Linked DNA regions of Homo sapiens. The protein of the gene in region 1 interacts with the protein of each later gene in a pairwise test. Each region holds a gene or a part of one and is shown on either strand. Other genes may lie near its edges.

Region 1 (7,761 bases):
AGGATGCAAAAATAAAATTAGATTTTTGGCAGTCCTTAATGAGCTTCAAGTGATTATATTTTTAAATCTTGAATGTTTTTTCATAAAAATGCTATAGCCAAGAAAAATATTTTTAAAAGGTAATTGGATATTGACCCTAAGACAATTTATGGGAGGTGATTTTAGAAATAGTACATTAAGAAAGATAATTATTCTGAATACTTAAATGCCACATATTAATGTAAATATTGCCAATTTTTCTAGCAAAAGTTATGCCTTTTAAAGGGCGTTGATGCCTGAAGCTACTTTATCTTCATCAAGATTGTTTCTTCCCCACACCTTCCTGGTTTTTTAGCAATAGTTGTTTTTTTTTTTCTTTTTCTTTTTTTTTAAGACGGAGTTTTCACTTTTGTTGCCTAGGCTGGAATGCAATGGCACCATCTCAGCTCACTGCAACCTCCGCCTCCCGAGTTCAAGCGATTCTCCTGCTTCAGCCTCCCAAGTGGCTGGGATTACAAGCACACGCCACCACACCCAGCTAATTTTTTTGTATTTTTAGTAGAGACAGGGTTTCACCATGTTGGCCAGGCTGGTCTCAAACTCCTGACCTCAGGTGATCCACCTGCCTCAGCCTCCCAAAGTGTTGGGATTACAGGCATGAGCTACCACGCCCAGCCAATAGTTGTTTCTTTAACATTTGGAAACCACTCAGATTTCTGGCTTGTGTTGCATCCTACTGCCATACAGAAAGCAGTGCTTCAATTTTTAAGGTTATTTCTTTTTTTCAAAGTTTAGGTTTTTATTGAATATGCTGTAAAAGAGGTTTAGTCAAAAAGACCAAAGCCCATGTCCTCATCAGATTCCTCGGATTCTTCTTTCTTTGCTTCCACTTTCTTCTCAACTGAAGCAGCAGCAGTGGAGGGGGTAGGATCTCCAGCTGCTGCAAGTCCACCAGCCCTTACATTGCAGATGGGGTTCCCGATGCTGACATTGGCTAGGGCCTTTGCAAACACGCCAGGCCAGAAAGGTTCAACATTTACACCAGCTGCTTTAATGAGGGCATTGATTTTATCATTATGCAGAATGAGGGCCGAGTAGATGTAGGCGAGCTCGGAGAGGGAGGCCATGGCACGGGTGTGTGTGGGGCTGGCGCTGCTGGATGAGGTGCTAATCGCCGGATGAAGTGAGGCTCTCACCCCAATGTGGCCTTAGCTTCCTTGGAATGACCAAGCACCTTGGCAGCAGCTGAGGAAAGGGCAGTTTTTAAGGTTCTTTAAAAATTTATCGGCCCGGCATGGTGGCTCATACCTGTAATTCTAACACTGGGAGGCCGAGGCAGGCGGATTGCCTGAGCTCAGGAGTTCGAGACCAGCCTGGGCAACACGGTGAAACCCCGTCTATACTAAAATACAAAAAATCAGCTGGGCATGGCAGTGTGTGCCTGTGGTCCCAGCTACTTGAGAGCCTGAGGCAGGAGAATTGCTTGAACCCGGGAGACGGAGGTTGCAGTGAACGAAGATCATGCAACTGCACTCCAGACTGGGCACAGAGCTAGACTCCATCTCCAAAAATATAATAAAAAATTATCTAAGATGACTCTGAACCTTTCTGGCTATCCAAATCAAGATGTGCAAACTGTTCTTAGGTATGTATTCTTTTAGTTTATGCTCTCATCAAACCAGCATATCTTGCAGTAATTCTTCCTGCTTAGCCTAATAATATTTTTTCTACTTGCCAGTGGGTAGGACTTACACTAATAACCATCCACCTCTCTGTTATAGTAGTTTAAGCATTTATCCTCACTAGTAACCTTTCTTTATTAAAATCAGTTTTCATAACCTAAAATATTCTGCAATATGACAAATCTTAGGGGATAAAATAGGCTGGATTGGTTTGAGTTTAAACAAATTGGATTTACACTCTTGAGCTGCATGTAATAGATGGTGAAACATAAATGGGACACATATCAGTTGTGCAGTATATAGTGATGTTGAGCATTTTTTCATTACTTGACCTTTGCATGTGTTCTTTTGAGAAATGTCTACTAAGATCTTTCACCTTTTAAGACAGTGTCTCGCTGTGTTGCCTGGGCTGGGAGTGCAGTGGCACAGTCATGGTTCACTGCAGCCTCGACCTTCCAGGCTCAAGCGATCTTCCTGCCTGAGGATCCATCATGCTTAGCACCACACTGGTCTCGAACTCCTGGGCTCAAGCAATCCTCCTGCCTCAGCCTCCCAAAGTGCTGGTATTATAGGCATGAGCCACCACACCCAGTCATTTTACCCAGTTTTAAATCAGATTGGTCATTTTTCACTGTTCTTTATGTAGTCTGGTTTTTAACCCCTTGTCAGATATATATTTTGCAGATGTTTTGTCCCATTCTGTAGGTTGTCTCTTCACTCTTGTTTCCTTTGCTGTGCAAAAGCCTGTCAGTTTGATGTAATCCCATGTGTTTATTTTTGCTTTTGTTGGCCTGTTTTGCTGAGGTCTTATTTTAAAAATCCTTGGGCCAGGCAAAGTGGCTCACACCTGTAATCCCAGCACTTTGGGAGGCTTGAGTGGGTGAATCACATAAGCATAGGAGTTCAAGACTAGCCTGGGCAACATGGCAAAACCCCATCTCTATAAAAAATTTAAAAATTAGGCTGGGCGCGGTGGCTCACGCCTGTAATTCCAGCACTTTGGGAGGCCAAGGCGGTCAGATCATGAGGTCAGGAGATCAAAACCATCCTGGCCCACATGGTGAAATGCTGTCTCTACTAAAAATACAAAAATTAGCTGGGCGTTGTGGCACATGCCTGTAATCCCAGCTACTCGGGAGGCTGAGGCAGGAGAATCGCTTGAACCAGGGAGTCGGAAGATGCAGTGAGCTGAGATCGCACCGCTGCACTCCAGCCTGGTGACAGAGTGAGACTCTGTCTCAAAAAAAAAGAAAATTTTTAAAATTAGGCAGGCATGGTAGTGCACACCTGTGGTCCCAGCTATTGGGAGGCTGGGGTGGGAAGATCACCTGGGCCCACGATTGATTGAGGTTGAGGCTGCAGTGAGCCGTGATTGTGCCACTGCACTCAACCTTGAGTGACAGAGTGAGAACCTCCGTCTCAAAAAAAAAAAAAACCTTGCCCAGCCCAATGTTGTAGAGTATTTCTGTATGTTTTCTAGTAGTTTTGTAGTTTCAAGTTACATTTAATCCTAATCCATTCTGAGTTGATTTTTGTGTATGGTGAGAGGTAGGGGTCTAGTCTCATTCTTCTTCATGGGGATGTTCAATTTCCCCAGCACTGTTTATTGAAGAGACTGTCTTTTCCCTCGTGTGTGTTCTTGGCACCTTTGTTGAAAATCGGTTGACTGTAGGTGGCATACGCAATATATAAAGAGGAAAATCAGCCACGGACCAATACAGAATGTTAATTTGAAGTGATTATTTTTTAATTACTGAATAATTGTTCAGTTCAACGTATTTTCTAGTATGTGTCAAATTTGTGTCACAAACATCTTCATTTTTAATTGCTCATTATAAGAATGATGTTCTACTCAAAAAGGAATTTGTTTTATTTTGTTTTGTTTTGTCTTGTTTTTTGGAGACAAGGTATTGCTTTGTTGCCCTGACTGGAGAGCCGTGGTGCAATCACAGCTCACTGCAGCTTCGATCTCCTGGGTTCAAGTGATCCTCCTGCCTCAGCCTTTCAAATAGCTGGGACCACAAGTACATGTGACCACGCCCAGCTTGCTTATTTATTTATTTATTTATTTATTTATTTATTTATTTATTGAGATGGAATCTTGCTCTGTCACCCAGGCTGGAGTGGAGTGGCATCATCTCTGTTTGCCGCAACCTCTGCCCCCGGATTCAAGCAATTCTCCTGCCTCAGCCTCCCAAGTAGCTGGGATTACAGGCGCACACCACCATGCCTGGCTAATTTTTGTGTTTTTAGTAGAGAAGGTGTTTTACCATGTTGGCCAGGCTGGTCTTGAACTCCTGACCTCAAGTGATCCACCTGCCTCGGACTCCCAAAGCGCTGGGATTACAGGCATGAGCCACTACACTTGGCCAAATTTTTTTATTTTTTGTAGAGACCGGAATTTACTATGTTGCCCAGGCTGGTCTCAAATTCCTGGGCTCAAGTGATCCTCCTGCCACATCCTCCCAAAGTGCTAGGATTACAGGCATGAGCCACTGTGCCAGGCCAGAAGGGGGATTTTTTTTAAAGCCCTGAAAATAGCTCTGAGCTGGACACTTTTTTTTTTTGATTTAGAGTCTCACTCTGTCACCCAGGTTGGAGTGCAGTGGCGCAGTCTCGGCTCACTGCAACCTTTGCCTCCTGGGTTCAAGTGATTCTCCTGCCTTGGCCTCCTGAGTAGCTGGGATTACAGGCACCCACCACCACACCTGTGAGCTGGACACTCTTAACTGCTACTGTAACTGCCGAGAGTTACTATGAAGTTAGCAAAACATTGTTACATCAGAGCAGCGTTGTCATCATAATTAGACTAGTGAGTTAGTGAAGTTTTAGATGAGTATTCCATCCATTGCTGTCAGGAATGGCTTCAGGGAAAGATACTTGTCCTACTTTGCCTAAACTCACTAACAACTGCTCTGATGAGAGTCTCTATAAATCTGCTAATAAGTAAGGATTTATGGGATTCTGGGGTTTTTTGTTTGCTTGTTTTGCAACCTGGGAGCCACAAAGATACGGTCAATAACTTTGTGTTCCCCTTTGGCATCTATACAGAAAGCTTTATGTTCCAGAGGGAAATATGTGTGCAGGGAAAGCAAATCTGACCTGAGTGTAGAGCATACATAAATTCAGAAGCCAATATAGTTTCTGTTTTTTGTGGCTGGCCAGACATTTCCTTTAGGCAGTCGGTAGGCCTGAGGCAAATCTAGGTGCCTTGCCTTTTCCCTTAAAGTCAAGTTAAAATGGGCAGGGTGCAGTGGCTCACGGCTGTAATGTCAACAGTTTGAGAGGCCAAGGTGGGTGGTTCACTTGAGGTCAGGAATTCGAGACCAGCCTGACCAACATGGCAAAACCCCAGCTGGGCATGATAATGCACTCCATCTCATTAAAAAAAAAAAAAAAAAAAAAAAAAAAAGTCAGATTAAAATGGACATTGTGGGCAAATTGTAAAGGACAGCATGCAGTTAGAATTACAGATACCTGGCCCTGACTTGATCTTGCTGATACATGGGTACTTAAATGGTTATCTTTTAGCTGAGTTTCAATGGCACAGCCGTCTGTCCTGCAACAGCAGGGGACCAAACATGAATGCACAACTGCCTCCAGTGCCTGGAATGATGCTAAAATGATTGTATTTGGCTCACAAGATGTCTTCTTGCTTTCCTAATCATCAGGTATGAAGAGATTCATTTGCCACGATTTTCATTAAAGCAAGGGATGATCCCAAGACGTTATGTCATGCCTTGGAAAGAAAACATGATATTCAGGAATGTGAATCTGAAGGTATTTCCCCATAAGCACACATAAGGAAAAAAAACAAAAACAAAAACATTAAGCCGGATGCGGTGACTTGTGCCAATAATCCTAGCACTTTGGGAGACCGAGGCGGGTGGATCACTTGAGGTCAGGAGTTCGAGACCAGCCTAGCCAACTGGCGGAACCCCATCTCTACTAAAAATATGAAAATTAGCTGGGCATGGTGGCGGGCAGTTGTAATCCCAGCTACTCGGGAGGCTGAGGCATGAGAATCTCTTGAACCCGAGAGGCAGAGGTTGCAGTAAGCCAAGATTGCGCCACTGCAATCTAGCCTGGGCAACAGAGCTAGACTCTGTCTCTAAATAAATAAATAAATTTTACATATATATATATATATATATATATAATTTAGTATGTCTGTGATAGACGTGTGTAACTATACAAAAACTATTTTGATGTACTGTCACAAACTTGCAAACAAATGTTAAATAGTAATATCTGTTTAAATAACCTAATTATATACCGAAGAATTTCAGAAACTCTACATCATGCTATCTTGCAGTTGTTAAACTCATCATCAGAAGATGCCATTAATATTAAAGGTACACTACAAAGCATATATTTTTTAGATTATACTGCATATTCAGATAGAGAGGCATGGGAATATTTTGGCTAGTTTACACATGATTTACCCATTCAATGCTCCTGTTCAGTCAGCAGTTTTATTTATTTATTCCTTTTTTTCTTTTTGGAGACAGGGTCTCGCTCTGTCATCCAGGCTGGAGTGCAGTGGCGTGATCACAGCTCACTGCAGCCTCATCTGCTGAGCTCAATTGATCCTCCTGCCTCAGTCTCCCAAGTAGCTGGGATTACAGGTGCACATCACCACACCTTGCTAGCTTTTTGATTTTTAGTAGAGATGGGGTCTCACTATGTCTTCCAGTTTGGTCTTGAACTCCTGAGCTCAAGCAATCCTACTGCCTCGGCCTTCCAAAATTCTAGGATTACAGGAGTTAGCCACCACACCGGGCCTACTTTATTTATTTATTTAGAGACAGGATCTCACTCTGTCACCCAGACAGGAGTGCAATGATGCAATCATGGCTCACTGCAGCTGCAGCAACCTCTTGGGCTCAGGTGATCCTCCCACCTCAGCCTCCTGAGCAGCTGGGACTACAGGCACATGCCACCATGCCCGGAGAGTTTTGGTATTTTTTGTAGAGATGGGATCTCTACTATGTGGTCCAGGCTGGTCTCCTGGGCCCAAGCGATTCTCCTGCCTCAGCCTCCCAAAGTGCTAGGATTACAGGCATGAACCACTGTACCCGGCTCCAGTCAGTAGTTTTATAACAGCAGGAAAACTACTATAGGTAAAATGCCGCAGCCACTGTAGAAGATAGTGAGACCATTCTTCAAAAAATTAAACATAGAATTACCATATGATTCAGCAATTCCACTTCTAAGTATATGCTCAAAATAATTGAAAGCAGGGATTCCAACAGGCTTGTTTTAAAACATTTTCTGGCTGGCGTGGTGGCTCATGCCTGTGATCCTAGCACTTTGGGAGGCGGAGGCGGGCAGATAACCTGAGTTCAGGAGTTCAAGACCAGCCTGGCCAACATGGTGAAACCCCATCTCTACTAAAAATACAAAAATTAGCCGGGCATGATGGCACATGCCTGTAATCCCAGCTACTTGGGAGGCTGAGGCAGGAGAATCGCTTGAATCCGGGAGACACACTGCAGCAAGCCAGATCACGCCACTGCACTCCAGCCTGGGCAACAGAGCAAGACTCCATCTCAAACAAATAAATAAATGTTTACTCAGACTTACTACAGTCTTAATATTAGTCTGCATTTCATGTAATTTAGTGGCATATCAAGGTCATTTTCAATGCCCTAAGTAGCTTCAGCATGGTGACAGTACTGACTTTTTCATTTATGAGAATTATAGGTTGTAAACTTTATAAGTTGAAATCAGTAAAGAAAAACTTTGTTTTGATTGCATCAAAACACTTATTCTTGACCTTACTTTTAGAGTATAATTCAGCATCATTTTTCAGAGCTATTTTACTTTTGCAATTTAGTTGACAGTGTTCCTACCAATGAAACTTAAATAAGTGAATTAAGTAAAGTGAATGTGCCCACACTGAGTAAATGCTAGTAAATGCTAACTTATGCTTTCCTTCCTTTTATTTATCCTCACCATTTTTCCATTAGGAGTTAAAAACTGCATCTAACAACATTAAAAAATATAGCACACAGACTAGGTGCAGTGGCTTATGCCTCTAATCTTAGCACGTTGGGAGGCTGAGACAGGGGGATAGTTTGAGGCCAGGAGTTTAAGA
Region 2 (7,595 bases), on another chromosome or scaffold:
CCTGAGTAGCTGGCATTACAGGTATGTGCCACCATGCCTGGCTAATTTTTGTATTTTTAGTAAAGACGGTGTTTCACCATGTTGGCCAGGTGGGTCTCAAATTCCTGACCTCAGGCAGTCTGCTCTCCTTGACCTTCCAGAGTGCTGGGATTACAGGCGTGAGCCACCAAGCCCGGCCCTTGTGTTCTTTTTGGTAGAAAGAGCTAACTTAAGAGAAGTGAGTCTGAGTGCACTGACTCACACCTGAAATCCCAGCACTTTGGGTGGTTGAGGCAGGAGGATTGCTTCAGTCCAGGAGTTGGAGATTGGCCTGGGCAATGTAGGGAGACCCCTTCTCTACAAAAAGAAAAAAAAGAAAAGAAGGAAAAGTAAAGAAAAAAAATAGCTGGGCATGGTGGCATGCGCCTTTAGTCCCAACTACTGAAGGCTGAAACAGGAGGATCCCTTGAGCCCTGGAGGTTGAGGCTGCATTGAACTGTGATCATGCCACTGCACTCCAGCCTGGGCCACAGAGCAAGATCCGAGAGTGAGAGAGAGAGAGAGAGAGAATGAATGAATAGTTAGTATATGTTCCACAAAGAATGTAGGACTTTTCTGGGCACTAAAGAATGAGTGGCGGCATTAGAATAGTAGCATGGAAAATAGTCCAGCCAGGGGACAGAACAAAGGCAAAGAAGCGGGAATGGGCTTAGCAGCTCTTAAGACAGTGCAGAGATTTGTCTGATGGAGGACCAAGGCTGAGTGGTGGGAATTAATGGGAACTGACTGTAGTGTGAGGCCAGATTGTGGTGGGTCTGAAAAGCTGGGCAGAAGGATCTAGTTTAGTTGCCATAGTTAAAAGACATTTGGAGGTGTTTTGAGCATTGGAGCTATGTAGGTAACATTTAGGAAAACCTCTCAGGCAAGGATATGTGGGAAGAGGGAATGAAGGGAGAACTTGGAGTTTCCCAAGAAAGCCAACTAGAAGGATACACTAGCCTTGGGCCAAAAAATTAGAATAAAGGTGGGGCCGGAGAAGAAGGGATAGACACCAGAGACGTTTCAAAGAAAACAAAAGAACTGGACTTGCAATGTGTGACTAGGTAAGTGTTGAAGGAGAAAAGTAAAGATAACTTTGACATTTTTAGTTTGAGTGGCCGGGGAAAGGGTGGTTTTCTACTTGCTAAGATAAAAAAGTTGAGAAGACAAGTAGATTGGAGAGAGGGTAGGGTAGGAGTTTAAGTGAAGAGGCTGATGCTGAGCCCACCTTTCAAGTAACATTGAGTTATTGGAACTCAGTTGGAAGGCCTGGTGGGAGAGCCGAAGGAAGACTTGAGGGTGAAAGATATCCACGTCCAGGTGCCAACGTGACCCAGAACTGAGGAGCATAAGGAACTATTGGTGCAAATAGGGTGAGGCGTCAGAAGTGAAGCGATCACCAGAATTAGGGAATATAGAGGGTTCCAGGTGGATCTGAGCAGACTCTGTCAGTCTAGTATTCTCCACAGTGAGTGCTTTCTGATCACTTTAGGATTTCTGTTTTGTTTGTTTGGTTTAAGACAGGGTCTTGCTCTGTCACCCGCTTTAGGATTTTTGTTTTGTTTTGTTTTGTTTTGTTTTGAGACAAGGTCTCACTCTGTCACCCAGGCTGGAGTGAAGTGGCACCATCATGGCTCACTGCATCCTTGACCTCCTGAGCTCAAGCGATCCTCCTGCCTCAGCCTCTCTAGTAGCTGGGACTACAGGCACGTGCCACTGTAACCGACTGAGTTTTGTATTTTTGGTAGAGACAGAGTCCCACTGTGTTGCCCAAGCTGGTCTCAAACTCCTGGTCTCAAGCATTCTGCCTGCCTGAGCCTCCCAAGGTGCAGGGATTATAGGCATGAGCCACTGCACCCAACCCACTTTAGGATTTTGTTAATTTAGAATTATTTAGCCTTCTCATTTCATTTTCTCCAGACTCTCCTAGGTATGAATATAAAGAATTCTCCTTTTTGGAAACTGTTAATGGTATTCAAAGAAAAGGGAGTTTATGAAAGTCTATATCAATTTAATCTATACCTCTGAGAAAGCCATTTTTTTTAACATGAAGAAGTATAAAATATTGTGTGTGAAGATTAAGCCCTTTCTTGCTCTATGTATTTGAGCCTAGAAAAAGACACACTCCCAAGAAATTAGAATAAAGGGAAAAATGACTTTGAGATGTACTTTCTTAAAATAACTGAAGTAATGACCGCATGAGCCAGCTGATGGGTTTTTAAATGGATACGTTTCTATCAGCCTGCTGCTTGATGCCAGAGCCAAATATATATGGAGTGTATTATATCATATCCTGTAGGCAGGAGACTGTTGGGGCATTGGGGGACTTAGAGAGGTGAAGTGGCAGGCTTGGCACAGGAATTAACAGCATGGCTACCGTCAACCAGAACTTTATTAGGTCAACATTACTGATTGGGTTCATGGTTCCCTATTATGTAACAATTTGTATCATCTTCTCGTAAAATAATATCTAATATTTATTATAAGAATGATAAGAATACCTGATATTTATAGAAATCTTTAATATTAAAGTGTTGCTGTACTCATTCTCTCATTAATACTTAATTATTCTCATTTCTGTTTTTTCTTGTTTTACTTTGTAACTACAAATCCACACCCCCGAGTCTGATTCATTGCTAAAAGTGGCCTCTTTTTGGTTTTCAGCTGCAGGGGCAGTATGGGTGCATCCTTAGTTGCAGGATGCTACTTATATCTGGAGTGCTATAGACCACCAGGTTAAAAGGAAGACAGTAGGTCTGGGAAGGAGGAATAGATCATAAATTGATAAACTGCTTTTCTTGCCAGAAATCATTATCAGCGATTAAGAATATTCACAAAGTAGACCCTCCCCCAACACACACAGAGTGTGGTTACTATGCCAGGAAATAAGAATGGCAGTTGTCTTTGTGGTTTAAAACCTGTTTGGTCTGGATTTGATTTGTAAAATAAATCTGAATGAAGTCCATAATGCATTTAAATTCACACATGCTTTACTATGTCTATATGTCAGACTCATGGACAGTGGCCTAGCTTACTGGAAAATTTCTAGAAGAGTTTTAGGGTTATTTTCCCTTTTTATTAAGTTAAAGGCCTGTTTGTTTTCCTATATTTTATAATCAGCCACCTTATTGAATTCTCATTATTGTTTGTAGTAGTTTTTCATTTGATCTCTTTGGAATTCTCTAGATATAAGGTGACTTCATCTATAAATAATAATGATTTTATCAGCTCGCCTCTTATTTCTCTCTTATCTAATTGCATGGATTCCTACTTCCAGAACAGTGTTGAAAACACCCCGAGTTTGGCACCTTACATGCATGAAAACTGTAGAAGGGAAATAAGCTATAGTACCAGTAATATCTTGGGAAGCAGAAATTAAACTTAGGGGTAGATATTCTTACTCTTAGAGGAACAAGTCTACAAAATGCAGCCTAAGGTGCACTTTATCAACATATTTATAATTCTCAACCACCCATGGAGATATAGGAACCTATGGAAAACAGTGGGTTTTCATCAGTCACATCTTAGAATTCTCTGGGACCTTCCTGGAAACCTCTCTGTTTTATAAGGTTAGAATTTAAGGAGTCATAAACACACCCCAGATGTCTTTCATGAGTATTGATGACCACACTGTTCTCTTCCAGGCCCAGCTTCGGGCATTTATCCCAGAGATGCTCAAGTACTCTACAGGTCGGGGAAAACCAGGCTGGGGGAAAGAAAGCTGCAAGCCCATCTGGTGGCCTGAAGATATCCCCTGGGCAAATGTCCGGAGTGATGTCCGCACAGAAGAGCAAAAGCAGAGGGTGAGAGTTCCTCTGACTGAGTTGCCTGGTTGCTTTTCCATCCTAAATTAACCACCTCAATTTTTGTCATTTCTACATCTTGTGCTAGAAAGTCTTTGTGTAATAGTTAAGCCTGTCCCTCCAAAGACTGATATTCTTTGATTTATAGCCTTTTCCATTTGTCGCTCCATCACTATACTATAAAGAGAAGACTGGGTTGAGTTGATGAATTTAAAATGTGTCTTCGGGGTTGCCTTTTGGAGCAGTTTTAATTTTATGAAGTGCTTGGGAAAGTCAAAGAAACTTGAAGTAAAAGTATTAATCACTTTGAACACTTAGAAATGCTTTTATTTCTGGTTACTAAAAATCATTGTTGAAAATGTAAATATGGAATTAGAGGGATATGAAGTCTGCCAGCTGAGTCTGCTAATAACAAAACTTTTACAAGAAAGACTAAACTACCTACCATTCCTTACTTTTTTTGCGTATTTATTTTTCTTTTTCTTTCTTTTCTTTCTTTTTTTTTTTTTTTTTTGAGACAGAGTCTCACTCTTGTTGCCCAGGCTGGAGTGCAATGACGTGACCTCGGCTCGCCGCAACCTCTGCCTCCCGGGTTCAAGCAATTCTTCTGTCTCAGCCTCCCGAGTAGTTGGGATTACAGGCATGCACCACCATGCCCAGCTAATTTTGTATTTTCAGTAGAGATGGGGTTTCTCCATGCTGGTCAGGCTGGTCTCGAACTCCCGACCTCAGGCCATCCGCCCTCCTCAGCCTCCCAAAGTGCTGGGATTACAGGCGTGAGCCACCATGCCTGGCCACGTATTTATTTTTCATTTAGCTTGGAAGTTTACTGAGAATCTTAATATGCCATTCTTGATCAGAATAATCTTTCTTTGCAAGAAGTTTAAGAGTTTGGCCTCAGGTTGGAATAGGGTGTAAACTAGACTTTGATCAAGAAGAAACCAATGAGAAGCCCTCTTTGATACTTCGTACACAGCTTCTTTCTACCAGAACCAGTCTGTGGGAGGTAATCCTAGGAGAGTCTAATAAGAGGTTTGGTTTGGTTTGATTTGATAAAGAAGTAGCTGCTTATTGCATATTGGGACTAAATAACCAAAGTTCTTTGTGGCTTAATGTGCTTTTCCGGTCATTTGGTGACAGGTTTCATGGACCCAGGCACTACGGACCATAGTTAAAAACTGTTATAAACAGCATGGGCGGGAAGACCTTTTGTATGCCTTTGAAGATCAGCAAACGCAAACACAGGCCACAGCCACACATAGTATAGCTCATCTTGTACCATCACAGACTGTAGTCCAGACTTTTAGTAACCCTGATGGCACTGTCTCACTTATCCAGGTGAGTAAACCTGAGGGCTACCAGACTGTGGCTTCTGAGATGGATCAGTGGGCACCTCACCTCAGACTAGGGAAAGTTTCCTTTGTGCGAACTCTTGTATGAACTTTATATAGCTCCCCAAGATCTTCCTACCTGAAATTGATTTCTGAAGAATAGTTTAAATTCTTTGCATTTGCTAAATACAGAGCTATGAGTAGCTTCCTGGACATTTCCAAAACAAAGCACTTTTAAAGGGCTCTTTTTTTTTTTGAGACAAGATCTCTCTCTGTCATCACAGCTCACTGCAGCCTCAACCTCCCGGGCTCAAGTGATTCTCCCTCCTCAGCCTCCCGAGTAGCTGGGACTACAGGTGTATGCCACCAGGCCTGGCTGAATTTTTTTTTTTTTTTTAAGTAGAGATGAGGTCTTGCTATGTTGCCCAGGCTGGTCTCAAACTCCTGAGCTCAAGTGATCCTCCTGCCTCGGCCTCCTAAAATGCTGGGATTACAGATGTGGGCCACCATGTCTGGCCTTAAAATGACTTCTGTTTTACAGTTTCACTCTCAGTGATCAGGGAATATTCCTTCTGAATGACCTCTTCTGAGGTAAAACACAATTTGTTGATTGGGAACCTCTAAAGTTCAGATTGAGGTGAGAATAGAAAGTTGGTTGACCAACACTGGGCATGGATGTGGCGATGTGATAGCTTTTCTCATATGGACTTATTTGGTTGAAGTAAAATTCTGAAACTCGTGATAGTCTCTGAACTATGATTTTAGTGAGCTATGATTTTAGATTTCACATCATAAGGCATATTCTTTGTTATCTGTGCTGAATTTGGGATTAAATGAGTCTCAGCTTCTGAGTAAAGAGGTGGAAGGATCCATCCACTGACACTTAACCACTTTCCATATTTTTCTTTAGGTTGGTACGGGGGCAACAGTAGCCACATTGGCTGATGCTTCAGAATTGCCAACCACGGTCACCGTTGCCCAAGTGAATTATTCTGCCGTGGCTGATGGAGAGGTAAGAAAGAGATTCCATCTGCATCTTCTTAAATACTTGAATGTATAATGAGGGAAAAGCAAGGGTCCAGAAGATGGAGTAGCCTGCATGTCTGCGGCACTCTTTCATTTAAACCTTTTAAAGAGCATGAGACCATGAAAGTTTTAGAAAGTGTCTTATGCTATGTGTATTAATTGTAACAATTAAGATTCATGGATTAGTATGTCAGGAACTTAGAATTTTACATTTGAATGTATAGCATTTGGTATTATACACAATACAAAGGGATTATCCCTTTACCATTTTTATGCTGTGAATCCCAAAGAATTTCATCTTTGGTCTTTATGAAAAAAAAATGTCACATTAAAACTGGAACTGACTAAGGGAAGCCTTCTTTGAAAGGATAAATATGTTTGCAAGTCAGTAACATGATTTATTACATCTTAAATATGCCTTTGAAAAGATTTCTTAGGAGAATTCTTCCTTACCAAAATTGGGATAATTATGGGACATTAACCTAAAGACAGCCAACCTTTATTGATCACTTGGTGGGCTAAACACTCAACCCTATGAAGTATAAAGTTCTGTTATCTTCACTTTAGAGATGAGAAAACCGAGACATAACAGAGCTTAGATGATTTGCCCAAAGTCCCATAGCAGTGTTGAAGCTGGATAATGCATTGAGAAAAACATTACCTAGGCTCTGAGCCATTGGTGAAGATGCAACAGTGAAGGAAGGGGTTTGTTACGTCACCATGAGTGTTTCCCTTGAAGATACTGATGTGGTGTGCTGAAGTTTGAAAAATAGCCAACAGATGTCAAAGAGCAGTATCAGAAATAAAGCTAAGAGTATTATCTCACCCTTGTTGAGAGCCATGGAGCATTTCCCCTTAGAACACCACAAAGTCACTTTCATTTGTGCCCCTCAGGAGAGGGGGAGAGCTGGCAAAGGCCACATGGCTGGGAGATGGAGGGAGAGTGCACCACAGGCTCCTTGGCCACCCTGCATGTGCCAAACCCCTGTGTAGCTGCAGCTGTGTGGAGTTGATTCGCACAGGATCCTTGCTGTCATGGGACTCCAGTCTAGTGGGGAAGAGAGATGTCTACGTGAATGAACTCTAGCCTTCCTGTAAGGGATGCTGCAAAGCGTATGTGCCTCCTTTCCACCTAAGGAGCCTGGGAAAGTTTGGGACACTGAAAAACTTGGTTATTGGGTGAGGAAAGGTGAAGGTTGACAGGACACTTACTTTCTAAGTATATAAACATCATTAAAGGATATGGATTAGCAAAGCAAAGAATTTGTCAGTCCCAGAACACTAGAACAAGATGACACTCCTTAAAGTCTGAAAGAGGTGGAAAAGACAACGAGGGGTACAGTTAGGAGATGTGTTAGTTTTTGGCTTAGACAAAGTTATCAACCATATGTCTCTACTGAATGTTTCTTGGTACTAT

What was found.
Region 2: the proteins of SPMIP10 (region 1) and NRF1 interact in binary tests that used the Homo sapiens proteins (3 or more experiments, as listed by UniProt).

Annotation. Positions count from the first base shown.
Region 1 is NC_000005.10:126,627,214-126,634,974, forward strand, and holds the start of SPMIP10 (sperm-associated microtubule inner protein 10), read left to right. Parts: upstream 1-4,491; 5' UTR 4,492-4,521; coding exon 4,522-4,607; intron 4,608-5,332; coding exon 5,333-5,441; intron 5,442-7,761.
Region 2 is NC_000007.14:129,705,413-129,713,007, forward strand, and holds part of NRF1 (nuclear respiratory factor 1), read left to right. Parts: intron 1-3,662; coding exon 3,663-3,821; intron 3,822-4,961; coding exon 4,962-5,159; intron 5,160-6,062; coding exon 6,063-6,164; intron 6,165-7,595. UniProt on the Homo sapiens protein: Transcription factor that activates the expression of the EIF2S1 (EIF2-alpha) gene. Links the transcriptional modulation of key metabolic genes to cellular growth and development.